Linked DNA regions of Homo sapiens: regions 2, 3, 4 and 5 are each linked to region 1. The links come from fine-mapping of genetic effects on gene expression. A gene starts in region 1. Each other region holds a variant in brackets. All regions are shown on one strand. Distances are between the middles of the regions.

Evidence for each region.
Region 2: its variant is fine-mapped to the expression of EIF4B in whole blood (TOPMed, PIP 0.99).
Region 3: its variant is fine-mapped to the expression of EIF4B in whole blood (INTERVAL, PIP 0.93).
Region 4: its variant is fine-mapped to the expression of EIF4B in whole blood (TOPMed, PIP above 0.99).
Region 5: its variant is fine-mapped to the expression of EIF4B in whole blood (INTERVAL, PIP 0.94).

Annotation. Positions count from the first base shown.
Region 1 is chr12:53,003,887-53,009,830 of GRCh38, forward strand. EIF4B (eukaryotic translation initiation factor 4B) reads left to right here and starts at 2,570. Exons shown (of 15, transcript NM_001417.7): 1 at 2,570-2,610. The coding sequence starts at 2,598. RefSeq lists enhancers at 1,941-2,684, 2,685-3,428.
Region 2 is chr12:53,042,384-53,048,327 of GRCh38, forward strand. TNS2-AS1 (TNS2 antisense RNA 1) reads right to left here. Exons shown (of 4, transcript NR_033854.1): 3 at 3,578-3,678; 4 at 806-3,270. It also overlaps a transcript of TNS2 not described here. Among named protein-coding and RNA genes, the nearest start is that of TNS2, 4.7 kb to the right of the region's middle. RefSeq lists enhancers at 3,981-4,170, 4,251-4,300, 4,998-5,842, 5,843-5,944 and silencers at 4,811-4,880, 4,951-5,540. The variant CACTT/C (reference allele first, on the strand shown) is at 2,858.
Region 3 is chr12:53,026,864-53,032,807 of GRCh38, forward strand. EIF4B (eukaryotic translation initiation factor 4B) reads left to right here. Exons shown (of 15, transcript NM_001417.7): 7 at 919-1,056; 8 at 1,152-1,325. Among named protein-coding and RNA genes, the nearest start is that of TNS2, 20 kb to the right of the region's middle. The variant G/C (reference allele first, on the strand shown) is at 2,858.
Region 4 is chr12:52,982,243-52,988,186 of GRCh38, forward strand. No RefSeq gene overlaps it. Among named protein-coding and RNA genes, the nearest start is that of EIF4B, 21 kb to the right of the region's middle. The variant C/T (reference allele first, on the strand shown) is at 2,800.
Region 5 is chr12:53,080,074-53,086,017 of GRCh38, forward strand. No RefSeq gene overlaps it. Among named protein-coding and RNA genes, the nearest start is that of SPRYD3, 3.7 kb to the left of the region's middle. The variant A/G (reference allele first, on the strand shown) is at 3,493.

The sequences.
Region 1 (5,944 bases):
TATTCGGGAGGCTGAGGCAGGAGAATGGCGTGAATCCGGGAGGCGGAGCTTGCAGTGAGCCGAGATCGCGCCACTGCACTCTAGCCTGGGCGCCAGAGCGAGACTCCGTATCAAAAAAAAAAAAAAAAAAGAAAAGAAAAAGGAATAAAAGAATGGCTACTCCATAGGCAGAGAGCAGCAGCATGGGCTGCTTGACTAAGAATACTTACCGTTATTTCTTGATTATATGGGAAACACGGGGTGGATTATTCATGTTTTCCCTGGAAAGAGGAGGGCGATTCCCGAACTGAGGGTTCCTCCCCCTTCCTCACATTGCCATGGCATCTGTAAACTGTCATGTCCTGGTGGGAGTATCTTTTACCATGCTAACGAATTATATTTAGCATATAATAAGCAGTGAGGAGAGGTCAATTTAGTCGCCATCTTGGTTTTGATGGGATTTGGCTGGCTTCTTTACTGCATGCTGTTTTATGAGCAAGGTCTTTGTGACCTATAACTTGTGTTGACCTCCTGTCTCATCCTGTGATTAAGAATGCCTAACATTCTGGGAATGCAGCCCAGTAGGTCTCAGACTTATTTTACCCAGCCCTATTCAAGGAGTTGCTCCGGTTCAAACACCTCTGACAATTGCACTCTCCATTCAGTAGCCTGAGTAATCTCTTTTTTTCTAATTAACGCGTGACTTACATAAAGTACACAAATCTTAAGTATTCACAAATCTTAAGTATACGAATTCTAGATATACACCCATGTAACCACCACTCACATCAGGATACTAAGTAATCCTTTTTAAAATTTTATTTCAACTCATGACATTTCTCTGCCTTAAATCATTCCACACTTTCCCAATCCCCTCACATGATCAGCCTCACATGATCCAGCCCCTCTCTCTCAAGATTCATCCTGTACCACTCCTCCCTCCCCTGCCCTCACCATATTGCAGCAAACCCAACTGCGCATCCTGTCTTCTCCTAAACCTCTTCAGAAGACATTCCCAGGGATGGCAGCTTGTAATTTAGACCTCTGTCTGAATGTCACTTCCTCAGAGGTCTACTCTGACAGGCAATCTAAAGTTGCACCTAATAACTTATTACACCACCTTGTTTTAATTACTCACAGAATACTTGTTGTAATATTTTATTAGTTGCTTATTATCTGTCCTTCCCCCACTAGAATATAACCTCTTTTGGGACAGTTCTATTCCATGTTGTACCCGCAAGTGTCTGTGCCTGGCACACGGTGGGAAACAAAAATTTTCATTTAATGAATGAAATGGAACATCAGCTAGGGGAAGCATGAATAGCCCTAGTCTCAGAAATCCTAAAGGCCTAAGTTGGACTAAACCTAGTCAGCAAATTGGACCATTAAATGAGGTAAAAGCCCATGACAATTAAGTGTTCAGCATTTGTTACCTTCTTATTCCGTCTAAATATGCCTCATTAAAACCATTCTTACACAAGACGTTCGATTTGTTTTGCCTTTACAAAAAGTAATTTGAAAACAAACAGTGGTTGATGCCTGTAATCCCGGCACTGTGGGAGGCCTCGGAGGGAGGAATGCTTGAGTCCAGGAGTTCGAGACCAGCCCAGGCGACACAGGGAGACACACCGCCCCCCCCAAGCCCGCCACTCTGTCTCCACACAAAGACTTTTTTTTAATTAGCTGGTCCTGGAGGCACTCGCCTGTGGTCCCAGCTACTCAGGAGGCTGAGGTGGAAGAACTGCTTGAGCCCCGGAGGTTGAGGCTGCAGTGAGCCGAGATCGCGCCACTGCACTCCAGCTTGGGAGACAGGGCGAGACCCCGTCTCAAAAAATAAAAATAAATAAAAATAAAATCAGTGATTTCTGATGTGGCTTTTAAAAACTAGGCCGGGCGCGGTGGCTCACGCCTATAATCCAGCACTTTGGGAGGCCGAGGCGGGTGGATAGCCTGAGACCAGGAGTTCAAGACCAGCATGGCCAATATGGTGAAATATCCCGTTTCTACTAAAAATACAAAAAACTAGCAGCGAATGGTGGTGGGCGCCTGTAATCCCAGCTACTCCAGAGGCTGAGGCAGGTGAATCGCCTGAACCCGAGAGGCGGGGGTTGCAATGAGCCGAGGTCGCGCACGCCATTGCACTCCAGCCCGGACAACAGGAGCGAAACTCCGTCTCAAAAAAGTACATTAAACTCAGAATCTTCCCTTTCAGCACATCCATTTCGCCACACCCATCACCGGCTCCGTGCAGAGTAAGCAGAAGCAGCAGCGAAGCCCCGCCCTTCCCGCCACTCTTCCGGCAGGAAGTCTGTGCGTCAGGAGGCCGGCCAGGACTCAGCTCCAGCCCCGCGCTCGCGTGTAGCCCTACGTAAAGCGTGAGGGGTTTCGCGACAACCCAGGCCCCGCCCCTTTGGCCACATGTCGCGCATGTCTTCCCGTCGGACGGCGTGCCACCTCGCCGCGCAGCTTTACGAACCTAGAGCAGCGCCGCCCCGCCTCCTGTCTCCGTCCTCACCTCCCCGCCCCCTCCCAGCTTCGCGTCTCCTAGCTCGACGCGCCCGCTATAATCACGTGATTGCCTCATCCGGGTCTTTTGCGTTCTCTTTCCCTCTCCCAACATGGCGGCCTCAGGTGAGCGAGCAGCCGAGCGCGGCCAAGGACTGGGCTCTGAAACCCCCCTCCGAGCGTGATCCACTGATTTCCTGAAGTCGGGGAATTGCTGGCACTGGTTCCTTTCTGAATTGAGGGCTGCGGCAGGCTGGCGGCGTGGCCCTGTTAGGTTACTGCCTCTGGATGTTTGGGGGGGAGGGGAAGGACACCTTCCCCTCCCCCTCACACTCTTTTCACCCTTTCTGCGCGAGATTGGAATAGGCAGTAATGGTAGACTCTGGCTTGAATTGGGGAAGGAGGCGCAGAAAGGTGTGCGGGTGGTGCGAGGCCTTTTCGTAGACGTGAATCACCGTGCCCGCGTGAAGGCGTGGAGGAAGGAAGGAGGCGGTTGCTGCGCGGACGAGTGCACATTAGACTACGTCTCCAAGGCGCGAGGCTGTAGCGGACCGGAGTGGGGGGTAGGGGAGTAAGTGTGGTGGGGGGGAGCAGTTGGAACGCGAGCGCGAGTTGGTGGAGGGGCGGGGGAAGGCAGCGGTGCGCGTGCGCGGTAGGAGACACGAGGGTAGTAGAGACGGGCGCGCCTTCAATGCGTGCGCTAGAACCCAGATGGGAAGCTTTTTAACGCGCCTGTGTTGCGCACTTATGTCCTTTTAGGTTGTCTCTTCCCTTTCTAGAGTGTGGGCCCTGTGCCTGTATTCTTCTAAGGGTGTGTGTGTTAGCCTTGGAGGTTGGTGCTATTGGCGTTAGATGGGGGTGGGGAATCCAGTTAGGTGCGCCCACGTGTTGGAGAAGCACCGGTGTGCACCTAGATTTCCTTCTAGGCTTTTTTCTCATACTCAATTGGAGGCATTTTTTACTCAGCGCAGCTATATGCCAGGATCAGGTTTCGCTTCCGGCGCTTCCATGTTGGTTGAATTTGGATAGCTCCAATGGTAGATTTCAGCCTTTTTTTTTTTTTTTTTTTTTTTTTTTTAAGGTAACTGTGCAACTACCAGCAGGTACTTTTAAAATAGTGCTTACTAATGGCTGGAGTTGCTTACTTCTTTAGACAACCTTGGAGGGGAGTATCAGTGCCTTGCAAGTCTAATTACATTTCTAATGGGCTTATAAAAGCAGTGATGACCCAACATCTTGTAGCATTGATTTTAGTTTGAGGAATATAGTTTGTTTTCTCTGGCATGACCTTGCATTCTTCAAAACATTATTTGAACTTCTATCTCTGGGTGCTCATTTCTTACCTAGTAATTCATCGTCTCTATTACAAAGAAGCTAAGGGTTTTGGTTGGCTTTGGAAAATGTTGAGAAATTTGAGGTGCATTTGAACATCTTTCATTGGTGTAACGCTTGACAGTTGACCAAGCACTTTTGTGCATGTTGTCTCCTTCCATCCTGAGGTACTGCAGAGAGCTAGTGGTATTTCTCAGCTAAGGAATATTATTTAAGGCCACACTGCTCTCAGCTGGCAGAGCAAGGTCATAATCTTTGAGACTCCTTAGCAACTTAAAAGTATCAAGGTGTCATCATCAGTTTAGGACGCTGCCCGAAAGCATCTGAAGTTTACAAAAATGTTCATATTTTTTTCTCCAGTGGGCTAGTAAAAGTCCTAAATATATTTTAAACTAACCATTGCTTAAAGTACTTACTTGGTCTGGATTTGCCACCTTAACAGTTTAGTATCGTAATTTAGTGAAGAAAATCTGTGTTTTCTTAACTTTTGTGTAATTTTTAGAGGCGGAACATAGGACAGCAATTCATGTCCTTCGTTTTACCGAGTTGAGGGAAATCCAGACTGATAAAAGGGATTTACTCTGACGTCCCATTCTCTTGTTCTTCCATATTTACTCTACCCCCTTGAAAACCCTCATCTCCTTTAATTCACTTCAGTAAATCTTTTTAGCTGGTACTGGTATCTGAGCACAAGTCACATCTTTCAGTCTGTTCTTGAGGAATCTGGGGTTTATCGGATTGTTTCCCCGCTCCTCTTTCCAGTCACACTGGCTTTGTGAAGTAACCAGTATTCCCTGATGTGGGAAATGGATGTTATGTGTTCTGTGTGAAAATACATAAAACAACTTCATACGCCTCTTTTACTGTTAAATGAGACCAAAAAATTCTTTGCAGCAATACCAGTTTCCAGTGTGATCCATTATTGACCTTCAAGAACTAAGGTAGGTCTCAGAACTAACTATAGAATGAGGATAGTTTGAATTCCTAGAAACTTGATACATTGAGCCAGTACACTTAATTCCTTGCTTTGCTTCTTAAAAAGAATTCTTAAAGGCCGGGCGCGGTGGCTCACGCCTGTAATCCCAGCACTTCGGGAGGTCGAGGCGGGCGGATCACTAGGTCAGGAGTTGGAGACCAACCTGACCAACATGGTGAAACTCTGTCTCTACTAAAAATACAAAAATTAGCTGGGCGTGGTGTCGCGTGCTTGTAATCCCAGCTACTCCGGAGGCTGAGGCAGGAGAATCGCTTCAATCTGGGAGGGGGAGATTGCAGTGAACCGAGATTGTGCCATTGCACTCCAGCCTGGGCAAAAGAGCAAGACTCCATTTCAAAAAAAAATCTTAAAAATACGAAGTTTTTCATTTTTCTTAAATTTTCATTGTGACTACTTTAGTAGACTTGCCAGTAATAAGCCAGTTACCGCTTGAATCTCAGTTTCTTTATCTGGAAAGTGGTCATTATTTATCTGCTGTCCCCTTACCTAGAGGGAATCAAATGCGTTTGATACAGGTTAACATTTAAAATGCTTTCAAATTGGGCAGGGTGCAGTGGCTCATGCCTGTAATCCCAGCACTTTGGGAAGCTGAGGTGGGTGAAACACCTGAGAACAGGAGTTCGAGACCAGCCTGGCCAACATGGTGAAACCCAGTCTCCACTAAAAATACAAAAATTAGCGGGGTTTTGGGCTGGGCGTGGTGGCTCACGCCTGTAATCCAGGAGGCAGAGGTTGCAGTGAATTGAGATTGCACCACTGCCCTCCGGCCTGGGCGACAGAGCGAGACTCCGTCTCAAAAAAAAAAAACAAAAACAAACTTTAAAATTGGAAATAACATATGTAAGCTCATGCACAGGCCTTTCATTTCCATAATGCTTCAAAATGCAGTCCTGTGTGACATCTTATTTGATTATTTTTATAGGGAGAAGATGCTCTGCAGTGGTTGTTTTCATACACTGCTGACTCTCACAGTGAAATGGTTTTAAGGGGTGCCATTATATATTGCTTACAGATTCCCTAGTGTCAAGTTCCATCCTCTATCATGTATATGTTATTCTGTGAGTAAGATACCCAGAAGGCCAAAATTAAAACTCTTTATGAAAGTTTAAATACAAATACAGAATAGTGTCA
Region 2 (5,944 bases), 38 kb after region 1:
TGAGGCCCAATAATAGAGTTTGCATCCTAGCTCCCCTCTGGCTTTTTTTTTTTTTTTTTTTTTTTTTTTTGCCTGGTGTTAAATTTTTTAATCACCTGGATGTGCCTGCAGTCTATTTCCTGTACTGTTTATTTTAATCAAGATGTGGGAACTCTAAGAATGAATCCTTGTGTCCTTGGGGCAGTTCCCTCATAATCTCCCTCCCTCACTTCAGCAATCTGGAGAGATGCTGCTCCCTTGAGTTACACCGCACTGGTGGACCAGAGATACTGGTGACAGGCTGGTCGAGGTTACCAGAACAGAGGCTCACAGACTCAGTGGGAATTTTCCAAACAGCTAGGGACAGACTGGTCATTGTTGCAAGGCGGGAAAGGGGTTAGGACAGTGGCAGAGAATCCTTAAGGTCACAAGGAGGTGGAGCATAGAAAGGAGCCCGGGAAACCTCAGTCAACAATTTTGGGGATTTAAGAGCCAAGATGAGGAGCCAGTTAAATGATTTCCCAGCCAATTGGAGCAGCTGCTCTTCTAGTTTCTGGCCAGTGCATTTATCTCTGTTCTCCAAAACTGGTAAAGTTGAAGGCTATGAGACTCAGCTGTGATGATGTGAAGGCTTTTCAATGTGGGTTTAGGTGCCCCTATTGTCCAGGCTGCCTGGAAACCTACAAGGTAATGCTTTTTCACTGCCTCTCCACCACAGGAATCAGTTTCACTCACATTCTCCAAGCCTTTGTTTCAAGCCACTCTCAGCTGTGCAATAATGAGGTCTAGGTAAATGATGGAAAGAAGGAACATAAAAATAGGAAAGGCTTGTTGAAAGAGGTTTATGATGGCTGTGTACAGAAAGGGTAGAGAGGAAGGCCCTATGTCCCAAAAGGTACTCTAAAGTCAGAGAAAACCTGGGCTGTAATATGGCCACATCCTCATTTAAATTTAAAAAGACGTGTGTGGCCAGGTGCCATGGCTCACAGCTGTAATCCCAGCACTTTGGGAGGCCAAGGCGGGCACATCATGTGGTCAGGAGTTCTAGACCAGCCTGGCTAATAGGGTGAAACCCCGTCTCTACTAAAAATACAAAAATTAGCTAGGCATGGTGGTGTACACCTGTAGTCCCAGCTACTCAGGAGGCTGAGGCAGAAGAATCGCTTGAACCCGGGAAGTGGAGGTTGCAGTGGACCGGGATCGCACCACTGCACTCCGGCCTGGGTGACAGAGCGAGACTCTTGTCTCAATGGTTGCTCACACCTGTAATCCCAGCACTTTGGGAGGATGAGGCAGGAGAATCGCTTGAGCCTAGAAGTTTGAGACTAGTCAGGGCAACATGGCAAGACCCTGTCTCTACAAAAAAATAGAAAAATTATCCAGGTATGGTGGTGTATGCCCATAGTTGCAGCTACTTGGGAGGAAGGATCACTTGAACCCAGGAGGTCAAGGCTGCAGTGAGCTGTGATCACACCACTACACTCCAGCCTGGGCAACAGAGCAAGACCCTGTCTCAAAAAAAAAGTGTGGGTCCACCGAGAAGCCCCCCAGCTGCAGGAGTGGACCCAGGACTGGTCAGCCCTCATTGTCAACGTCTTGTAAATCTTGAACTAGTGGACGAGTAGGGGGAAAGTGCAGGTGCAGCAACCTACTTCAAAAGGGCTAACTTGAGGCTGATTAGGTCCCGTGTGTCTCCCAGTCCACATTAGCCTCGTTTCTTCTCAATAGAATCAAGCACTATACTCCGGATCCCAAGGCACTAGGGTCCCAGTTCGTGCTGAGGGCGTCGCCTCAAGTGCTAAGCGAGCTCACAGCATCTGGTTTCTCAGGAAGTGAGAGAGCTACACATCTGCTCCTGGGAAGCATTATTTGTCAAATAAGCCTTGTTTCTCAGCAACCATTGTAGCCCCCAGGGCCACAAGTAAAGGGGGGCTTGCCTTCCCTTACCCTCCCCCAAAAGAAATTTGGAAGAGACGAGCTGAGCTGCTCCCCGCCCAGCTACAGCAACCTCCAGCTTGGACAATACACCCTCTGTCCTCAGCCAGGAGATCCGCCTCTGGAGTTGGCTCTGCCCCTTCCCCCACTCTTCCTGGTTCCCAGCACCCAAACCCTCTACTGGAGTTCTCCTGACCCAGTGGTCTCCAGCCAGGACAGTCCCACACCTTCAAATCCTCCCCCTACAGTCCCCGCACCCCAAGGATCTGAGCACATTCAGTTACAGGCATGGGGTCACCCCAGACCATGGAAGAGGGGGTTCCATCTTCAGTGCCAAGATGGACCACCCTCTGCATAGTCAAGGTAAGAAAACCTGTGTGGAGGGAGGTCAGAGGTGCTCCTGAAATTGTTTGACCTTTACTAACATCAACCTGGCTTTCTCCTCCTCTCCTTCTTCCTCTCTGAAGCTCCTGCTGCTGTGAGCTGGAAATCAGGATGCCTGGCTGGCCCATGAACCACTCATTTTTGTTTCACTCCCACCAAGCTACCTCCTGTATAACTTCTCATTCTCAGCTTTTCTCAGCCCTTCCTGCAGCCCCCTTCTCCACTATCCCCACATTGAGAGTAGGAATCAAGCCTGAGCTGGGAGTTTGGCCACCCATCTTGTGACCCTTTTCCAATTCCTTGGAACCTCTAAAGTTCTTCCCATGGGCCTGCCAGGCAGCAGCAAAACCAGCATGTGTGAGGTTCTAGCCCTTACCCCTCACCTCTCTGGGGTCCAATCAAGTTCCTCTTTGAGTCCCAGTCTCTCCATTGGTAACTTTAGAGCTTAAGTAAAGGTACTCCCATGGCATCCATCCCAGAGCCCAGCCAAAGACCCTAAGGAATGCTGGGAAGAGCAAGATGTTAAAAGAGCTGGTTGAAGGCTCCAGAGACATGAACA[CACTT/C]AATTATCTCATGATTCTCGATTACATAATCAAATCTGGCCAAAATACATGGGACAACCTTCAGCCTTGCCCTTTCTCCAGGAGCCTCCAATCCCTGCCACTTTCCTCGGTATTCCCCTAACTCTTGCCTCTCCCCTCCTCCCAGTGCCTCCCTACTCATTCCCGCCTGGCTTCCCCCACCCCCACCTCTCCTGTCCCCAGTCCCCAGTGACTCCCACTGCTCTAACCTCTGAAACTGTCTATTGGACACCAACTCAACCAAGAGCAGTAAGATCAAGGCTCCCCAGTCCCAACCATATCCACCCCTCCCAAATGCCAATTTCTGGGTGGGGGGGGACACACAGTCATCACGCACTTCTTCACAGACTCTTCTTCCCTGTGGCAAGATTGGAATCAGGTGCTCCACCCCCTGGAAATGAGAACCAGACTTCTCAGCCTTTGCCAAAGACAAGGGACCCAGTTGAGATGAGACGGGGAGGGAAAGAAGGCCTTAGAGCCAGTGGTACTGGCTACTTTGGGCAAGCACTGGGCATTGAGCCCTGGGCACTGGGTTCTCAGAATTCCAACCTTCCTTCCCCCCGCCCCTTTTCATCATGGAAAATCCAGCAGGGAGGGTGAAGGAGGGAGAAAGTTTCAGGAAGTGCTCACTGCTAAAGGACGTTGGGGGAATGTAGGAATGGCAACAGGTTCAGAACTTCTAGGAAGATGTCCCCTACCTTATCCCTACCCTCCACCTTCTGCTCCAGGGTGGCACGACTCAAACCTGCCCTACGGCCCATTAGCTCCATTCCATGAAGTTCCTATCCAGTACCAGGCACTGCAAAAGAAGGGAATGAGGTCAGACCATAGAAAGAACTTCCATCTCCATTTGGAAAGGCTGGACTCAAGTTAAATGTAAGGAAGACCTTCTCAGAGGTCTCCTGCGAACTGGGAATGACGGTCCAGCTCTTTAAAATAGGGCAATGGGCCGGGCACGGTGGCTCACGTCTGTAATCCCAGCACTTTGGGAGGCCAAGAAGGGGAAATCGCTTGAGCTCAAGAATTGGAGACCAGCCTGGGCAACATGGCGAAAACCCATCTCTACAAAAAATTAGCTGGGCGTGGCGGCGCCCATCTTGTAGTCCCAGCTACTCGGGAGGCTGAGGTGGGAGGATCGCTTGAGCCTGGGAGGCAGAGGTTGCAGTGAGCCGAGATGGCGCCACTGCACTCCAGCCTGGGCGACAGAGACAGACTCCCGTCTCAATGAATAAAGCAGGGCAGTGGATGGGATGGCTGGAGCTGCTTGCGGGTGGAGATGGGGGCTTGAGCCTGACGGAAAGGTCCCCAGCTGTGAATCCTTTGAGAATACTAGCCCAGGAGAAGTCTCCTGTGGGGCAGAGGACCAGGGAAGGGTGTCCAATGACTTGGGCCAAAAGTAACACCAGGTGTCTTCACCTGATTCAGGCGCCCGCCTGGGTAGGGGACGCTAGCACCACCAGGCTAAGCCACGGGTGGTCCTCTCAGGTCAGGCCCAAGCCCAGGCACACTCCTGTGGGGAGGGTAAGAGGCTGACGCTGCGCGGCAGTTCCCTGTCCCCTTGTTCCTAGTCCCTTCTAGACCTACGCCCACCGTTTCTTCTGCGTCTGTCTGGCTCGCGTGTTTCTTTCTGCCTGTGTCCCGCCGGGTCAGGCTCTCCCCGTCTCTCAGACTTTCCCGTCCCCGTGTCCTCCGCGGCCGTCTCTCTCCAACTCTCTCCCCCTCTCAGCCACTTCCTGTCTCCAGTATGTCCCTGGCGCGGCCCGGCTGGCCGTCTGCGCACCCTCTCTCCCCTCGGCTCTTTGTGAGTGTGGGTTCGCGGGAGAAGGTGGGGAGGAGAGGAGGCCGAGGGGTGGGGAGCTGGCGGAACGTGGGGATTGGAGCCGGGAGGGAGGAGGAGGAGGAGCGGGCTGCCACGGGCGCGGGCGCGGGCGCGGGGCGCGGCGGGGGCGGGAGGGAGCCCAGCCGAGCCCGGCCGCCCGCTCCCGCCACTGCCACCGCCTCCTCCTCCGCGTCCGCTCGGCGCGGGCACGGGCGGGATGGGCTGGCCCGGCGGCTCCCCCTGCTGCTGCCCCGCCCCGCCGCGCCCCCGCCCGGCCGGGCGCCCCCCGCAGGTGAGTGGCCGCGCCGCGCTGGGCGGGCGGCGGTCTCTGCGTCACGGCCGCGCGGGCAGTGCCAGGGGCGGGCGCCAGGGGGCGCGGGGCCGCCGGAGGTCGAGAGGGCGCGGGGCGCGGGGCGCGGCCCAGGGCTGGGGCCGGGGGCTCTGGCTGGCCGCGGAGAGCTGGGAGCAGCGGGAGGCCGGGACAGTGACTAGGGGGCGGGGCGCGGCCGCGGCCCTACTCGATCAGGCCGCCACGCCTTCCAGCACCCGGGGCGCACGGGGCCGCACGCCGTGCCACACACGCAGGCCCGGGACCCGGCAGCAGCTGGCAGCGGCGCTCGGGCCCCGGCCTGGCAGGGTGCGGGCGAACGTTTTCCTTTCCTGCTTCACATGTGGGACAGAGGCCGTAAGCGGGCACAGATGAGGCTGATTCGACTCGCCAGCCCCGCTCTGCGGCCCCCTCCAGTCTGCCCCCATCCTCCAGACCCTTCTGGGAACACCCCCAGAGCCGCCGCCCTCCCTCGCTCCTTCCCTGGGCCTTACCCCTCCTCCGCGGCGGCCGGGCTCCCAGCCTCCCTTCCAACCACAGCTATTTCCAGAAAGGGGGGTGTGGGTGGAGGGGTTTCTCCAAACAAACCCAAGACTTCGGAGAGAGAGGGGGCCCGGCTGGGGGAGAGGTTGACAGGCTCTGGAATGTTACAGGCGGGAGGAGGGTGAGGGTCCAAGAGGGTCTAGTGATGCCTTCCCAGCCCTCCTCAAGTGAGCTACTTTTCCCCTCGGGACTGGCTCATAGGGATCCCATCCCTGCTTCCCTTCCGAGGTGCGAGTGCCACAGGATGGGAGGGACTCACAGCCACAGTGGATCCTGACCACCCCACCCCTCACCGAGCTCACTGCTTGGGCACCTCCTTGCTGGGTCTGGGTGGGGAGTGTGAGACCAGTGAAGGTGAGAGGATGTCTGGGGACC
Region 3 (5,944 bases), 23 kb after region 1:
AAGTGTATTTGTACCATTTAAAATTATGATCAGCAGTGCAGAAATTGATTTAAGCTCCTAAAATTCAATAGAAAATTATGTCCTGTTAGTCATATGTTGCATATATTGTTTCTCATTTTGTTTGCCTCTTAAAGTGATCTTTGAGGCTGGGTGTTACGGCTCAGGCCTATAATCCCAGCACTTTGGGAGACCAAGGCTGGAGGATTGCTTAAGCCCGGGAGTCCAAGACCAGCCTGGGCAGCAGAGAGAGACTGTCTCTCAAAAAAAAAAAAAATTTTTTTTTTTTTTTTTTTTGAGACATAGTCTCACTCTCTCGCCAGGCTGGAGTGCGGGGGCATGATCTCAGCGCAACCTCCGCCTCCCGGGTTCACACCATTCTCTTGTCTCATCCTCCCAAGTAGCTGGGACTGCAGGTGTGCGTCACCACGCCCAGCTAATTTTTGTATCCTTAGTAGAGACGGGGTTTCACCATGTTGGCCAGGATGGTCTCGATCTCTTGAACTCGTGATCTGCCCACCTCGGGCTCCCAAAGTGCTGCTGGGATTACAGGCATGAGCCACCGTGACCAGCTAAAAAAATTTTTTTAATTAAAAAATAAGTGGTCTTTGGGATCAAACATGGGAGATTCCCAACTGTATTGTTTTAGTGTCTTGTGCTTTGTTTTGTTTTTTGTTTTTGCATGTAAACCTCTTCTCCTTCTGGAAATTCATTATGGAATATTTAGGGATTTTTTAATTTCCAACCCACCCTTCCCAAATTATTAGCTGAGCAACAATTATTTCACCAGGGAAACTTTTTGAAGAAATCAGATAGAAAATTTAAATAAACAGATTCTTCCAAATTGGACTGATAGCTTACCGTGTTTCTATTAATGGTGTCAGAGAAAAGGGGATGGTGTTACTTGTCTGTTTCCTCTAGAGTATCGAGATCGTTATGATTCAGACCGGTATCGGGATGGGTATCGGGATGGGTATCGGGATGGCCCACGCCGGGATATGGATCGATATGGTGGCCGGGATCGCTATGATGACCGAGGCAGCAGAGACTATGATAGAGGTAATTGTAAAACATGTCGAATTGCTCTTTCAGTAACTTTGCCTTTTTTTTTTCCCCCTCCGCTGTGATGATTATAATTTGGGATATATTTACAGGCTATGATTCCCGGATAGGCAGTGGCAGAAGAGCATTTGGCAGTGGGTATCGCAGGGATGATGACTACAGAGGAGGCGGGGACCGCTATGAAGACCGATATGACAGACGGGATGATCGGTCGTGGAGCTCCAGAGATGATTACTCTCGGGATGATTATAGGCGTGATGATAGAGGTAATAGTTTTCTTTTTACGTACTTCATGGAGCAGAAACTGGGAAAACTACGGAAAATTTGTGATTGTGTTACGAACTACTGAGTTGGGCACAAATATAATTTGCACATTGTACAGGAAGCAGCAAAGCATAGTAGAAAGAGCATTGGCTGGCCAGGTGTGGGCAGATCACAAGGTCAGGAGATCGAGACCATCCTGGCTAATGGTGAAACCCCGTCTCTACCAGGTGTGGTGGCAGACACCTGTAGTCCCAGCTACTAGGGAGGCTGAGAGAGAAGAATGGTGGGAACCCGGGAGGCAGAGCTTGCAGTGAGTGGAGATGGCGCCGCTGCACTCCAGCCTGGGTGACAGAGTGAGACTCCCCATCTCAAAAAAAAAAAAAAAGCATTGGCTAAGGATGACATCAGTGGAAACACAGCAGTCGAATTGTTTTCATCTCATATGCCTTCACAGATAGATTTTTCAGTTAAAATTTATTGAATAAACAGTAGAAATGGAAAAAAAAGTTGCCAGATACTGTTATGTTGTGATCTCAGTAAATTACACTTAAAACAGATGGTTTTAGCTCCATTTTCCAAGTAAGGGAAATGAAATTCAGATTAAACATAGTCCTGTAGCCCATAATTGGTACTATGGGGTTAAAAACGAAGCATTAAGGCCAGGTGCAGTGGCTCACACCTGTAATCTCAGCACTTTGGAAGGCCAAGGTGGGCAGATCATTTGAGGTCAAGAGTTCGAGACCAGCCTAGCCAACATGGTGAAACCCCGTCTGTACTAAAAATACAAAAATTAGGTGGCCGTAGTGGCACATACCTATCATCCCAGCTACTCGGGTGGCTGAGGCAGGAGAATTGCTTGAGCCCAGAGGCAGAGGTTGCAGCGAGCTGAGATCGCACCACTGCACTCCAGCCTGGGCGACAGTGAGACTGTCTCAAAAAAAAAAAAGGATTGCTTTCTGTACCATTATACCACAATAATTGATGTTCATTAATTATAAAGGTGAGATTTTGGTGCACCTATTCTAAAATTATGCCCCTAATACTATAAGATATAAAATGTAAACTGTGTTACAAATCTAACCTGTTATAAAATACTAATAAATGGCCACCATTTGTGTTCTAACTTCAGTGATGTCATATAAAAGGTTATGGTATCTGGCCCAGAATTTTTTCTATCCTTTTTTTATTTTATTTTTTTTTTTTTGAGACGGAGTCTTGCTCTGTTTGTTGCCAGGCTGGAGTGCAGTGGCATGATCTCAGCTCACTGCAACCTTTGCGTCCTAGGTTCAAGCAATTCTCTTGCCTCAGCCTCCCGAGTAGCTGGGACTACAGGTGCACGCCACCATGCCCAGCTAATTTTTGTAGTTTTAGTAGAGACAGGGTTTCACCATGTTGGCCAGGCTGGTCTCAATCTCTTGACCTCGTGATCCGCCTGCCTTGGCCTCCCAAAGTGTTGGGATTACAGGCATGAGCCACCGTGCCCGGCCAAATTTTTCCTATCTTTAACATCTTTGTGTTAGTCCTAAACTTTGTG[G/C]CAATGGCTTTATATCCATCATCTCCTGTGATTCCCCAAGAAAGGAAAATCGATCTGGACAACTAATAAAACACAGTGAGATGACAGAATTCATCAGAGCCATATGGCAATTCTATTGCAGTGAGGTCTTTCCTTCTCCCTCAGAAAATGGTGAAGTCTTTACTCCTTCCTCAAAATAATAATAATAATTCAATGTTTGTTTTTTTTAAAAAAAACTTAGGCCAGCCATGGTGGCTCACATTTGTGATTCCAGCACTTTGAGAGGCCAAGGCAGGAGGATCACTTGAGTCCAGGAGTTCAAGACAAGCCCTGGCAACATAGTGAGACCCCATCTCTGCAAAAAATACAAAAGTTAGCTGAGCGTGGTAGCATGTGCCTGTAGTCCCCGTGTCTTAGGAGACTGAGGTAGGAGGGTCGCTTGAGCCTGGGAGGTCAAGGCTGCAGTTAGCCAAGGTCTCATTTCAGCTTGGGCAACATAGTGAGACCCCATCTCTGCAAAAAATATAAAAGTTAGCTGAGCGTGGTAGCATGTGCCTGTAGTCCCCGTGTCTTAGGAGACTGAGGTAGGAGGGTCGCTTGAGCCTGGGAGGTCAAGGCTGCAGTTAGCCAAGGTCTCATTTCAGCTTGGGCAACATAGTGAGACCCCATCTAAAAAATAATAAAATAGGAAATAGGTTTTAAAAAATTATATTCTTTTTTTTTTTTTTTTTTTTTTTTTGAGACGGAGTCTCTCTCTAGTTGCCCAGGCTAGAGTGCAATGGCGCGATCTCGGCTCACTGCAACCTCTGCCTCCCAGGTTCAAGTGATTCTCCTGCCTCAGCTTCCCAAGTAGCTGGGCTTGCCACCACGCCCGGCTAATTTTTGTATTTTTAGTAGAGACGGGGTTGCACCATGTTGGCCAGGATGGTCTGGATCTCTTGACCTTGTGATTCGCCCGCCTCGGCCTCCCAAAGTGCTGGGATTACAGGCGTGGGCCACTGCGCCCAGTGAAAAAACTACGTTCTTAAAAGCGATTTCCTCAAGCAAGAAGCCTAAAAATAATAGCTAACATTTATTAACCATTTACTCTGTTCCATCAGTGAGCTGAGGGCTTGTACAAGTATTGTTTAATTCTAAGACTTCTGTGTGGTATAGGTAAAATTACAAGTTAGAAAAGTGGAGGCTCAGATGTGGGCCTCATGTTCTCCTTGACTTCTGACCTTTTCCTCTCTCACACTGTCCCTTACCTCCCCACCAAGAGCTGCATACCTAATTTTTTATTTCTCTTCTTGCTCTTACCCCCCCATTCCCTCTAAGATTTGCCCTCTTGTCTCTAGTTGCTGCTGCTACCTTCGTTGAGGCCTCATTGCTGCACCCACGTTACTGGCCATTGCCTCCTAACAGAGTTCCCTTTCTTGCTCCGTTCTTCACATTGGCCCCAGTTGTCAGTTGTCTTTCTGGCATAAGATCTAATTACCTTATTCTCCTGTTTAGACCTGTCTAGTTTCCCCATGGCCTGGAACATAGCCCTTTCTCTATACCTCTGACATACACGGGCCTTCACTGTTTGCCCAGCCTTTACTTTTTTCTTCTTGAGACAGGATCTCACTCTGTCGCCCAGGCTAGAATTGCTGTGACATAATCATGGTTAACTGTAGCCTCAGCCTTCTGAGCTCAAGTGATCCTCCTTCCTCATCCTCCCCAGTAGCTGGGACTAGAGGTGCGTGCCATATGCCTGGCTAATTTTGATATTTTTTCTAAAGATGGGGTTTCTCCACATTGCCCAGGCTGGTTTTAAACTTCCAAGTTCAAGTGATCCACTTGCCCTCGGCCTACCAAAGTGCTGGGATTACAGGCGTGAGCCACTGTGCCCGGCTGCGTTCTTTTATTAATATCTTAAATGAGCTACTTTTTCTGAGCCCCTATTTTATCTTACAAAAGTGACGGGGCTATAACACAGATTTAAAATATGTTTAGGAACATATATAAACTGTCGGCTTAAAGCCCTCGTAGAAAATTTAGATCTTGTTAAACAGTACCCTCTATCTACAGGTACTATGTGCATATGTAGTAAAAGTATAAAATCAAGTGTGGGCATGATGAAGTCACCATCTAGTGGTTATTTAGAGGACAGAGTACAGCTGGTCATGTCATCAGGAGGTTTTACCTCTTTGTTAAGGTTACATTACTTAAGCCAGGTGATTGTATACATAGGCTTTCTTTATATTCTCTGTATCTTTTGTATATCCAAAATATTTAGGACAAACAATCATTTTTAGAAATTTAACTTCCTTGAAACACTTAGGTTTCTCTTGAAAGTGTTCTGACAACTTGAATTGAGGAAGAAATCAGACTGCCTGCCTTAAGAGTTTATTTGTTCAGTGTTACATGCTTTGCCCCATGAACCACCTGCCAAATTTATATTATACACAGAGACAAGGGTATAAGATCTAGAGTCTTCCTGGCTGGGCGTGGTGGCTCACATCTGTAACAGCACTTTGGGAAGCCAAGGCAAGCGGATCACTTGAGGTCGGGAGTTCAAGACCAGCCTGGCCAACATGGTGAAGCCCCATCTCTACTAAAAATACAAAAATTAGTTGGGCATGGTGCCACGTGCCTATACTCCCAGCTACTGAGGAAGCTGAGGCAGGAAAATCAGGGAGGCAGAGGTTGCAGTGAGTTGAGATCACACCACTGCCCTCCAGCCTGGGTGACAGAGCGAGACTGTCTCAAAAAAAATAAAGAACTAGAATCTTCCCTATCATATTGTATTAGTTCTTAACATGCAGATTTCGGAGCAAGATACTTTCATCCAGTAGTTTAATGATGGTCAAAAATTTCTTCCCATATAAAAGAAGTCTTGATAGATTATTAATTTATTACTTAAATGTTTACCATTTTTAGTCTTTCCTGTGGTCTTGTACTACATCATGGATGTGGTAGAAGAGTAATTGAACTTGGGTTTTTTTGTTTTTTTTTTTTTTTGAGATGGAGTTTGGCACTTGTTGCCCAGTTTGGAGTGCAGTGGTGTGTTCTCAGCTCACTGCAACCTCCGCCTCCCCGGTGGGTTCAAGCGATTCTCCTGCCTCAGTCTCCTGAGTAGCTGGG
Region 4 (5,944 bases), 22 kb before region 1:
CAGGCGTGAGCCACCAGGCCCAGCCTATGAACTCTTTTATACAGAACTACCACTCTTCAAGTGCTTACTGTGTGGCAGGTACTGTGCTAAGGATTTGAAATAAATGATCCCTAAGCTTTCCAAGATAGGTAAGTATAAGTGGTCCCATGTTATGAAAAAGGAAACTGCCAGGCGTGGTGGCTCACGCCTGTAATCCCAGCACTTTGGGAGGCTGAGGAGGGCGGATAACCTGAGGTCAGGAATTGGAGACCAGCCTGGCCAACATGGCGAAACCCTATCTCTACTAAAAAAATACAAAAATTAGCCAGGCGTGGTGGCAGGTGCCTGTAATCCCAGCTTCTCAGGAGGTTGAGGCAGGAGAATTGCTTGAACCCGGGAGGTAGAGATTGCAGTGAGCCCAGATTGCACCATTGCACTCCAGCCTGGGTGATAGAGTGAGACTCCATCTCAAGGAAAAAAAAAAAAGAGAGGCTGGGTACAGTGGCTCAGGCCTGTAATCCCAGTACTTTGGGAGGCCAAGGTGGGCGGATCACAAAGTCAGGAGTTCGAGACCAGCCTGGCCAACACAGTGAAACCCCATCTCTACTAAAAATACAAAAATTTGCCAGGCATAGTGGCGCACGCCTATAGTCCCAGCTACTCAGGAGACGAGGCAGGAGAATCGCTTGAACCCAGGAGGCGGAGGTTGCAGTGAGTTGAGATCGCACCACTGCACTCCGGCCTGGGCAACAGAGTGAGACTCTGTCTCAAAAAAAAGAAAAAGGGAACTAGGGTTTCGGACAAGACCAAATGACATAGTAGAAAAAGCTTTGAAGTCAGACCAGATCCAAGTTTGAATTATTTATTTGTTGTTGAGTATCACAAACTGTCAGTTCACTCCCTGGATAAAAATTGCATGTGAACACCTCTAGCCAGGGCATGCACTCCTCAATCTTCCATAGTCTGCACCACTCCCAGTGACCTACACCACTTCGCACACTTGCCTATCTGAACCCTGACAGTATTTGAATTTGAGACCCTTAAAAATATTATTCCACTTGATCTTTAACAGGGGTTTGTAAGGAAGGCAGTAGCATAACAAAGGTAGGAGGGTAGGAGGATTCCACCCTGAGTCAGGCAAGAACGGATGTTTAGTCCGTAACGAATTTTATTTTATTTTATATTTTATCTATTTTATTTTATTTTATTTTTTGAGGCAGAGTCTCCCTCTGTCACCCAGGCTGGAGTGCAGTGGCAAAATCTTGGCTCACTGTAACCTCTGCCTCCCCAGTTCAAGTGATTCTCCTGCCTCAGCCTCCTGAGTAGCTGGGATTACAGGTACATGCCACCATGCCTGGCTAGTTTTTTTTGTTTGTTTGTTTGTTTTTGTTTTTTTGGTTTTTTTTTTTTTGAGACAGAGTTTCACTCTTGTTGCCCCGGCTGGAGTGCAATGGCACAATCTTGGGTCACCACAACCTCCACCTCCAGGGTTCAGGAGATTCTCCTGCCTCAGCCTCTGGAGTAGCTGGGATTACAGGCATGTGCCACCACGCCTGGCTAATTTTGTATTTTTAGTAGAGACGGGGTTTCACCATGTTGAGCAGGCTGGTCTTGAACTCCCAACCTCAGGTATTCTGCCCGCCTTGGCCCCCCAAAGTGCTGGGAATACAGGCATGAGCCATCGCACCAGCAGTTTTTGTATTTTAATTAGTATTATCAGTGAATTAATAATATCTGCCCTATGATTATAAAATTGAGCAGTATAAAGATATACAATGAAAAGAAAGTCTTCCTCCTACCCAGCACCCAGCCCCACAACCCACTCCAGAGGCAACCATTATTTACAGTTTTTCAACGTATAGGTGGATATCATTTTAACCTAATTTTACAAATGAGGAAACTGAGGCTTAGAGAGGTTGAGTGGCTGTCCTGAGATCACGGGCCTGATGGAGCTAACAGAGATGATATCAGATCTTGTCCTTGACACTGCATTGCCACCCTAACATCATCCTGCTTCACACATACATCCTGGGTATGCATCCTGGACTGAGAGTCCTCAGAGGGCAGGAGTTGCCCATGGAACCTGCTAGGGGCAGTAGTCAGCACTGGGCCACTGGGTGCTACAGCAGGAGGCCTGGGATCTGCACCATGATTAAGCTGCTGTGTGATGTTGAGCAAATCTCTTGATTTCCTCACTTGCCTTTCTTTCTCACTAGGCTATATTGAGATTTAAACAAGCCAAGTAGAAAGATGATTGGAGAGTAAAGATGTCATACAGATTCAAGGAGGGGTGAGGACAGATATTTAGTATAGGGTTAACTTTGTACTTTCCTTGGAGCACACGTGTCCATGTTCAGATACTTTACAGATACTTTAACTTGAGCACATGCGTCCTTGTTCAGTTCCTTGAAAAGTGTTGCTTGTTCACTGCCTTTCTTCTTTTTTTTTTTTTTTTTTTTTTGAGACAGAGTCTTGCTCTGTCACCCAGGGTGGAGTGCAGTGGCGCGACCTCAGCTCACTGCAACCTCCACCTCCTGGGTTCAAGTGATTCTCCTGCCTCAGCCTCCCAAGTAGCTGGGACTGTAGGCACGTGCCACCACACCCAGCTATTTTTTGTATTTTTAGTAGAGACGGGGGTTTTACCGTGTTAGCCAGGGTGGTCTCAATCTCCTGACCTCGTGATCCACCCGCCTCAGTCTCCCAAAGTGCTGGGATTACAGGCGTGAGCCACCGCGCCCAGTGCCTTTCTTTCTTTTTTTAGACAGGGTCTCGCTCTGTCACCCTTGCTGTAGTGCAGTGGCACAGTCACCACTCACTGCA[C/T]ACTTGACATCCCAGGGCCAAATGATCCTCCCACCTCAGCCTCCTGAGTAGCTGAGACTACAGGTGTGCACCACCACACCAAACTAATTTTTTATTTTTTGTAGACATGGAATCTCACCATATTTCCCAGGCTGGTCTCAAACTCCTGGGCTCAAGGGATCCTCCCCCTTGGCCTCCCAAAGCACCGGGACCACAGGCACATGCCACCATGCCTAGCTAATTTGTTTTTGTTCGTTGGTTGGTTTCTGTAGAGATTGGGATCTCACTATGGCTGGTCTCAAATTCCTGAGTTCAAACCATACTCCTGCCTTGGCCTCCAAAAGCACTGGGACTACAGGTGTGAACCACTGTGCCCGGCCTTCTGCCTCTCTTCTTTTTTGTGTGTGTATCGGGGTTTCGCTCTTGTTGCCCAAGCTGGAGTGCAATGGTACGATCTCAGCTTACTGCAACCTCGCCTCCCAGGTTCAAGCAATTCCCTGCCTCAGCCTCCCAAGTAGCTGGGATTACAGGCATGCACCACCATGCCCGGCTAATTTTATATTTTTAGTATAGACAGGGTTTCACCATGTTGGCCAGGCTGGTCTCGAACTCCTGACCTCAGGTAATCCACCCGCCTCGGCCTCCCAAAGTGCTGGGATTACAGGTGTGAACCACCGTGACTGGCCTTCTGCCTCTCTTCTTTGGAAGAGGGTTGACTTCCATTTCTCTACAAGCTTCAAGCCCAGTACAGGTAATAAGCCCATCAAATTGGCTGCACAACCACCTAGAAGGTTTGGGGCCAAGCCACATACTCAAGTAATGACACTTCTTTCAGGGAGCAGCACAGGGCTCCCAACCCATTTGGGACACAGGACAGCCGAGGCAGAAAATTCAATCGTGGTAGACAGTGTATCTCTCCAAAGAAGAAACACTTGTCTTCTGCCTCCAGCTGACATTCTGTGACTGCACAGACAGCACTATGTCAATTTAGCTATTACTACATAAAAAACCACTCCAAGACTTAGAGGCTTAAAACAATAATTAGCTCACAACTCTGCAATTTTAGCTGGGCTCAGCTGAGCAGTTCTGTTCATCTCACTTTGAGTTGCTTAAGTGGCTACAGTCATATGGATCAGGATGGTCTATGATGGCCTCACTCACATAACTGGCAGTTAGCTGGGATTCTCAGCCAAAGCACCTCACTTCTCCTGCCTGTGGCTCTCCAGCAGAATAGCCTGGGTTCCTTGCCTGGTATCAGCAGGTTCCAAGAGAGTAAAAGTGGAAGTCACAAAATCTTCCAAAGTCTAGGCTCCAGAAGTCACATATTGTCACTTCTGACACATTTGTTAGCCAAAGCAAGTCACAAGGCAATGCCAAATTCAAAAAGTAGGAAATAGACTCTACCTTTTGATGAAGGCACTGCAAAATATTTTGGTCATGCTTTTCAATCCATCACACACTTTCTAATCCATCATTCAATAATTCTCCAATCAAGCAGCCTGTACTTATTGAATACCTAACATACCTAATACCTAAATATTGTGCTAGATGGCAAAATACAAAAGAATGCTAAGACCAAGTCTTTGCTGGAAAAATTTTAAAAGATCTTAAAATGAGCTAAAGATTACTGGGTACCTTTTTAGTGGAATGCTGGGCTTTGTATAGAGAACTTTCAGTGTTATTTGATTTTGTAGTGGTCTGTGTCTTTGTGTTTTTTTGTTGTTTCTTTCTCATTTTATAAAAATAGTTTGTTTCAAAGACTCAATTGTCCTTCAACTTCTTTTTTTTTTTTCTTTTTTCTTTTTCAGACGGAGTTTTACTCTTGTTACCCAGGCTGCAGTGCAATGGCGTGGTCTAGGCTCACTGCAACCTCCACCTCCCAGGTTCAAGAGATTCTCCTGCCTCAGCCTCCCAAGTAGCTGGGATTACAGGCGCCCATCACCATGCCTGGCTAATTTTTGTATTTTTAGTAGAGACAGGGTTTCACCATGTTGGCCAGGCTGGTCTCGAACTCCTGACCTCAGGTGATCTGCTCACCTTGGCCTCCCAAAGTACTAGGATTACAGGCATGAGCCACTGCACCCAGCCCCTTCAACTTCTTATTTTTGGATATACCAAGAATATAATCAATGTGCTCAATATAATTTTTGACTGCTTTTGACTAGACTCTTATAGCTCTGTAAGTTTAAAAAAAAAAAAAACTGATGGTAGGCCAGGTGCAGTGGCTCATGCCTATAATCCCAGCATTTTGGGAGGCTGAGGCGGGTGGATCACCTGAGGTCAGGAGTTCAAGACCAGCCTGGCCAACATGGTGAAACCCCATCTCTACTAAAAATACAAAAATTAGCTGGGCGTGGAGATGCACAGCTGTAACCCCACTTACTCAGGAGGCTGAGGCAGGAGAATCGCTTGAACCCAGCAGGCAGAGGGTGCAGTGAGCCAAGATTGCACCACTGCACTCTAGCCTGGGCGACAGAGCAAGACTCTGTCTCAAATTAAAAAAAAAAAAAAAAATTAGCTGGGCATGGTGGCAGATGCCTGTAATCCCAGCTACTTGGGAGGCTGAAGCAGGAGAGTTGCTTGAACCCGGGAGGCGGAGGTTGTAGTGAGCCGAGATCGTGCCCCTACACTCCAGTCTGGGTGACAGAGTGAGACTCCATCTCAGGAAAAAAAAAAAAAAAAAAAAAAAGAAAGAGAAGAAAGAAAGGGAGGAAGGAAGGAAAGAAAAAGGGAAAGAAAAAAAGAAAGAAAGAAATGTTTGTAGGTTGGGCGCAGTGGCTCACGCCTGTAATCCCAGCACTTTGGGAGGCCATGGTGGGCAGATCATGAGGTCAGGAGTTCGAGACCAGCCTGGCCAACATGGTGAAACCCCGTCTCTACTAAAACTACAAAAATTAGCCAGGTGTGGTGGCGGGTGCCTGTAGTCCCAGCTACCCGGGAGGCTGAGGCAGGAGAATCGCTTGAACCCAGGAGGCGGAGGTTGCAGTGAGCCAAGATCGTGCCACTGCACTCCGGCCTGGGCAACAGAGCGAGACTCCATCAAAAAAAAATACAAAAATACAAAAATTAGCTAAGCATGGTGGTACATGCCTGTAATCCCAGCTACTTGGGAGACTGAGGCAGGAGAATTACTTGAACCCAGGAAGCGGAGGTTGCAGTGAGCTGA
Region 5 (5,944 bases), 76 kb after region 1:
ACACCTACTAGGGAGTGCCTACCTGCCATTCTGGGGGGTTGGACTCCTAGATGAGGACTTCCTTGCTCCCTTCCCATCACCATATCTCTCTCTTCTGGACGGAAAAGATTCCTCTCCTCTGTAGCACCTCATTTATAATACTTTTTTTTTTGAGACGGAGTCTCACTCTGTCGCCCAGGCTGGAGTGCAGTGGCGCGATCTCGGCTCACTGCAAGCTCTGCCTCCTGGGTTCACGCCATTCTCCTGCCTCAGCCTCCCAAGTAGCTGGGACTACAGGCGCCCGCCACCACGCCAAGCTAATTTTTTTTGTATTTTTGGTAGAGACGGGGTTTCACCGTGTTAGCCAGGATGGTCTCGATCTCCTGACCTCTTGATCCGCCCACCTCGGCCTCCCAAAGTGTTGGGATTACAGGCGTGAGCCACCGCCCCCCGCCATTTATAACACTTATTACCGTCTTGCTTTCGTTATTGGAGTTACTTGTGTGTGTAGACCCGTCTCTGCTAGACTGTGAGCTCCTTCAGACCCCAGACTATTCTATTCTTATCACACTAGGTACTCTAACGTGTTGAGTGCCAGGAAAGCCATCAGCTCGCATACCGTGAATAGTGCCCACTCGGCATAACGGCAATGGGTGATAGGAATAGATGAGATGGGAAACAGAGAAACCCGGATTAGAGCCCCAATTCTGTGTGACTAAAAGGTCAAGGTCTTGGTGTTCTCATCCCTAAACAAGAATTATTGAAGTATGTGTTCTTTTAGCTCCCTTCCAGCCCCTGGATGACTCAGTTCTGAATAGCTACCCTTCCAACTCATCTCCACCTCCTTTTGATTCCCTCATTGCTTCTCCTCCGCTCCTCTTCTTGTGTTATGAAAATACCTCAACACTGAGCTCAGCTCTTCCCAAAGGCAGCCAGAGAGGGACAATCTTAGGAGGCTGCCAGAGTCATGTTCATCCCAGACCAGGGCTCATTCCAGAAACTAACTAGCTAGGTGGCTAGGGTCAGACATGGAGAGAAATGGCAGAAGAAGGCATTTCCAAACTGTTACTGATGGTTGGTGATTCCACTCGGGATTTCCTCACCTTTAAGTTCCAGATGTGGGGCTCACCTTTTTGGCGAATTCTCCATCCATTGGCATGCTCAGGACCCAGTTGGTAATTTGTGTTTGGTGTCTACATGTATTTGAATAAACAACTTTATTGCCATATAACCGACATACAATAAACCATATATATTTAAGGTGTACAATTTATTCCTTTCTTTTTTTAATTAGAGACGAAGTCTCACTGTGTTGCCCAGGCTAGTCTCAAACTCCTGAGCTCAAGCAACCCTCCCACCTCAGCCTCCCAAAGTTCGAGGATTACAGGTATGAGCCACTGCACCTAGCCAAGGTATACAATTTGATAAGCTACTTATATACCTATGAAAATGAAAATGTCACCACACCCAAGATAGTGACCATATCATCATCATCCCTAAAAATTTCCTCATGCTCCTTTATAATCCCTCTCTCTCACTCTTTCATCCCTAGGAACCACTAATCTGCTTTTTGAAACTTTTTTTTTTGAGACAGAGTCTCACTCTGTCGCCCAGGCTGGAGAGCAATGGGGCAATCTTGGCTCACTACAACCTCCACCTCCCGGGTTGAAGGGATTCTCCTGCCTCAGTTTCCCAAGTAGCTGGGATTATAGATGCCCGCCACCACGCCTGGCTAATTTTTGTATTTTTAGTAGAGACGGAGTTTCACTATGTTGGCCAGGCTGGTCTTGAACTCCTGCCTCAGCCTCCCAAAGTGCTGGGATTACAAGCATGAGCCACCGCGCCCAGCCCACTAATCTGCCTTTTTGTCACTATCTTAGTTAGCATTTCCTAGAATTTTATGTAAGTGGAATCATACAGTAAATCCTCTTTGAGGAGGGATGTGTCTGGCTTCTTTTGTTCAGCGTAATTACCTTGAGAGATTCATCCATATTGTTGTTTGTGTTAATAGTTTTTATTTATTTATTTATTTGGGGCAGGGTCTTGCTCTGTTGCCCAGGCTGGAGAGCAATGGCGTGATCAAGGCTTATTGCAACTTCAAACTCCTGGCCTCAAGTGATCCTCCCACCTTGGCCTCTCGATTGTTCCTTTTTATTGCTGAATAGTATGCTATTGTTGGAATATATTACAATTTATTTATTCACTTGTTGATGGACATTTGGATTTTTTCAGTTTTTGGCTATTACAAATAAAGCTATGATGAATATTCATGTACAAGTCTTTGTATGGACATATTTCATCTTCTTTTTCTTTTTATTGAGATGGAGTCTCACCCTGTCACCCAGGCTAGAGGGCAGTGGCATGATCTTGGCTCACTGCAACCTCCACCATCCAGGTTCAAGTGATTCTTGTGCCTCAGCCTCTCAAGTAGCTGGGACTACAGGCATGTGCCACCACGCCTGGCTAATTTTTTTTTTTTTGTATTTTTAGTAGAGATGGGGTTTCACCGTATTGGCCAGGCTGGTCCAGAACTCCTGACCTCACGTGATCTGCCCACCTTGGCCTCCCAAAGTGTCATTTTCTCTTAAGTAAATATCTAGGAGTGAATGGCTCAGTCACATGGTAGATGTACGGTTCTTAATTGGTTAAAAAGCATCACACTGTTTTCAGAAGTAGTTGTATCATTTTACATTCCTATCAGCAGTGTGTGAGTGTTCTAGTTGTTCCACATCCTTGCCATCACTTGGTATGGTTATTCTTTTTACTTTCAGCCTTCCTAATAGGTAGGTATCACAGTGTATGAGGGTTCCAATTTGTCTACATACTCAACAACACTTGTTATTATCTCTTTTTGATTATAGCCACTTAGTGTGAAGTGGTATCTCATTTCACTTTTGATTTCCATTTCCCTAATGACTAACGAGGTTGAGCATCTTTTCATATGCTTATTTGTCATCCATATATCTTCTCTGGTGAAGTATCTGATTAAATCACTTGCTCATTTCAAAAAATTGTTTCTTATTGCATTTTGAAAGTCTTTATATATTCTAGATTCAAATTCTTTATCAGATATGTGCTTTACAAATATTTTCTTCTAGTCTGCAGCTTGTCTTCTCATGTTTTTAACGGAGTTGTTCAGGCTGGGCATGGTGGCTCACACCTGTAATTCCAGTGCTTTGGGAGGCCAAGGCAGGGAGAATTGCTCAAACCCAGGGGTTCAACACCAGCCCTGGCAATACAGTGAGACCTGGTCTCTACAGAAAATTTAAAAATTAGCCAGTCTGTTGGCACACACTTGTAATCCTAGCTTCTTGGGAGGCTAAGATGGCAGGATCACTTGAGCCCAGGAGGCAGAGGTTGCAGTGAGCCATGGTTGTGCTGCCACTGCACTCCAGCCTGGACAACAGAGTGAGACCCTACCTCAAAAAAAAAAAAAAGTTCTGCCGGGTGCAGTGGCTCACAACTGTAATCCCAGTACTTTGGGAGGCCGAGGTGGGCAGATCACCTGAGGTC[A/G]AGGTCGGGAGTTCGACACCAACCTGACCAATATGGAGAAACCCCATCTCTACTAAAAATACAAAATTATCCAGGCGTGGTGGCGCATGCCTGTAATCCCAGCTACTCGGGAGGCTGAGGCAGGAGAATCGCTTGAACCAAGGGGGCTGAGGTTGCGGTGAGCCGAGATTGCACCATTGCACTCCAGCCTGGGCAACAAGAGTGAAATTCCCTCTAAAAAAAAAAAAAAACGGGCTGGGCATGGTGGCTCACGCCTGTAATCCTAGCACTTTGGGAGGCAGAGGTGGGTGGATTGCTTGAGCTCAGGTTTGAGACCAGCCTGACCAACATGGTGAAACCCTGTCTCTACTAAAATATAAAAAATTAGCCAGGTGTGATGGCACACACCTGTGATCCCAGCTATTAGGGAGGCTGAGACAGGAGAATCGCTTGAACCTGGGAGGCGGAGGTTGCAGTGAGCCGAGATCGTGACATTGTACTTCAGCGTGGGTGACAGAGCAAGACTCCCTCTCAAAAAACAAACAACAAAAAAAAGTTCTATGTGTTAGGTTTGCATTTAAGTCTATAATTATATAATTTAGGGTCTCATTCTATTGCCCAGACTGGAGTGTAGTGTTGCGATCTCAGCTCACTGCAACCTCCACCTCCTGGGCTCAAGCAGTCCTCTCATCTCAGCCTCCTGAGTAGCTAGGACTACAGGTGGACACCACCACAGCTGGCTAATTTTTATATTTTTTGCAGAGACAGGGTTTCACCATGTTGTTCAGACCTGATCTTAAACTCCTGGGCTCAGTGATCCACCTGCCTTAGCCCCCACCAACTGTTGGGATTACAGGTGTGAGCCATAGTGCCTGGCTCCTCTATCTGTATGTATTTGTTACTATAGCTTTATAATAAGTCTTGAAATCAGGTAATATAAGTCCTCCAACTTTCTGTTTTGCATTTCCATGTGAGATAATCAGCTTGCCAATTTCTATTGAAAAAGCCCCTGGCGGCCTGGCACAGTGGCTCACACCTGTAATCCCAGCACTTTGGGAGGCTGAGACAGGCAGATCACCTGAGGTTGGGAGTTCGAGACCAGCCTGACCAACATGGAGAAACCCCACCTCTACTAAAAATACTAAATTAGCTGGGCATGGTGGTGCATTATGCCTGTAATCCCAGCTACTCAGGAGGCTGAGGCAGGAGAATCACTTGAACCTGGGAAGTGGAGGTTGCAGTGAGCCGAGATCAAGCCATTGACCTCCAGCCTGGGCAACAAGAGCTAAACTTCGTCTCAAAAAAAAAAAAAAAAGCCCCTGGGGATTTTAATTGGTATTACATTGAATCTATTGCTCAATTTTGGAAGAATAGACATTTTAACAATATATCTTTAACAATATATCTTCTGATCCATGAACATGGTATATCTCCCCATTTATTTACATCTTTTTAAATTTGTCTCAGCAATATTTCATGGTTTTTAGAGTGTAGATATTTGTCAGGTTTATCCTTAAGTATTTCATATTTTTTACAATTTGGTTAATGTTATTTTAAAATTTCAATTTCCAGTATATAAAAATTATTGCTAGTATATAAAAGTACAATTGATTTCTATATATTGACTCTCCATATACTTGATTTTGATGTATGAAATTTAATTGCTATCTTCCTAAATGTACTCTGGCTGTTTAATATTAAATTATAGGCCCTCAGCTCAAAATTTTAGGAAAGGAAAAAAATATTTACTATATTTGATATTTTGTTCAGAGCCCAAGATACTTCTTCAACAGCTGTGCCACAGATAGGCTCTAGGAGTGCATAGCTGGCCTGCCCAAAAGGATAAGACCCAGCCCTCAAACAGCCCCAGGTTGTTTTTGGAAAGAACCCAGACTTAGGCTTGGGGTATTCTCATAGCTCAGGAAGAGGAAAGAGAGGAAATCTAGTCTTTTCATGACTTGCCAGAAATCTTTTATCTATTATTTTATTAACTTGTTTCTAACTTTTTTCTTTTTCAGCTTGTGCTGTTTGTTATAATAATATATTTCTTGTTTTTATTCCCTACCACATCCCCAACATAAGGCAATCATTCTTTTTATTTGCCTTAAAGCAATCTTTCTCTTGCCCTAGAAATTGCACACAGATTGAGTATTTAGAGAATTTAGCAAACAAGTCTGTATTTAACTTATCCGCACCCTTGATGTCTTTTTACATTATGAAATTTTTTGTGGGGTTGAGGGGAGGGAGAGCATCAGGAAAAATAGCTAATGGATGCTGGGCATAATACCTAGATGATGGGATGCTCCGTGCCGCAAACCACCATGGCACACTTGTTTACCTATGTAACAAACCTGCACATCTTGCACGTGTACCTCTGAACTTGGAAGTTGAAGAAAAAAGAAAAAGGAAAGTTTTCGTGTTTCAGTGAAAAGAGTTTTGAACTTGGAATCTAGTGGATTCTGCCATCTAGCTG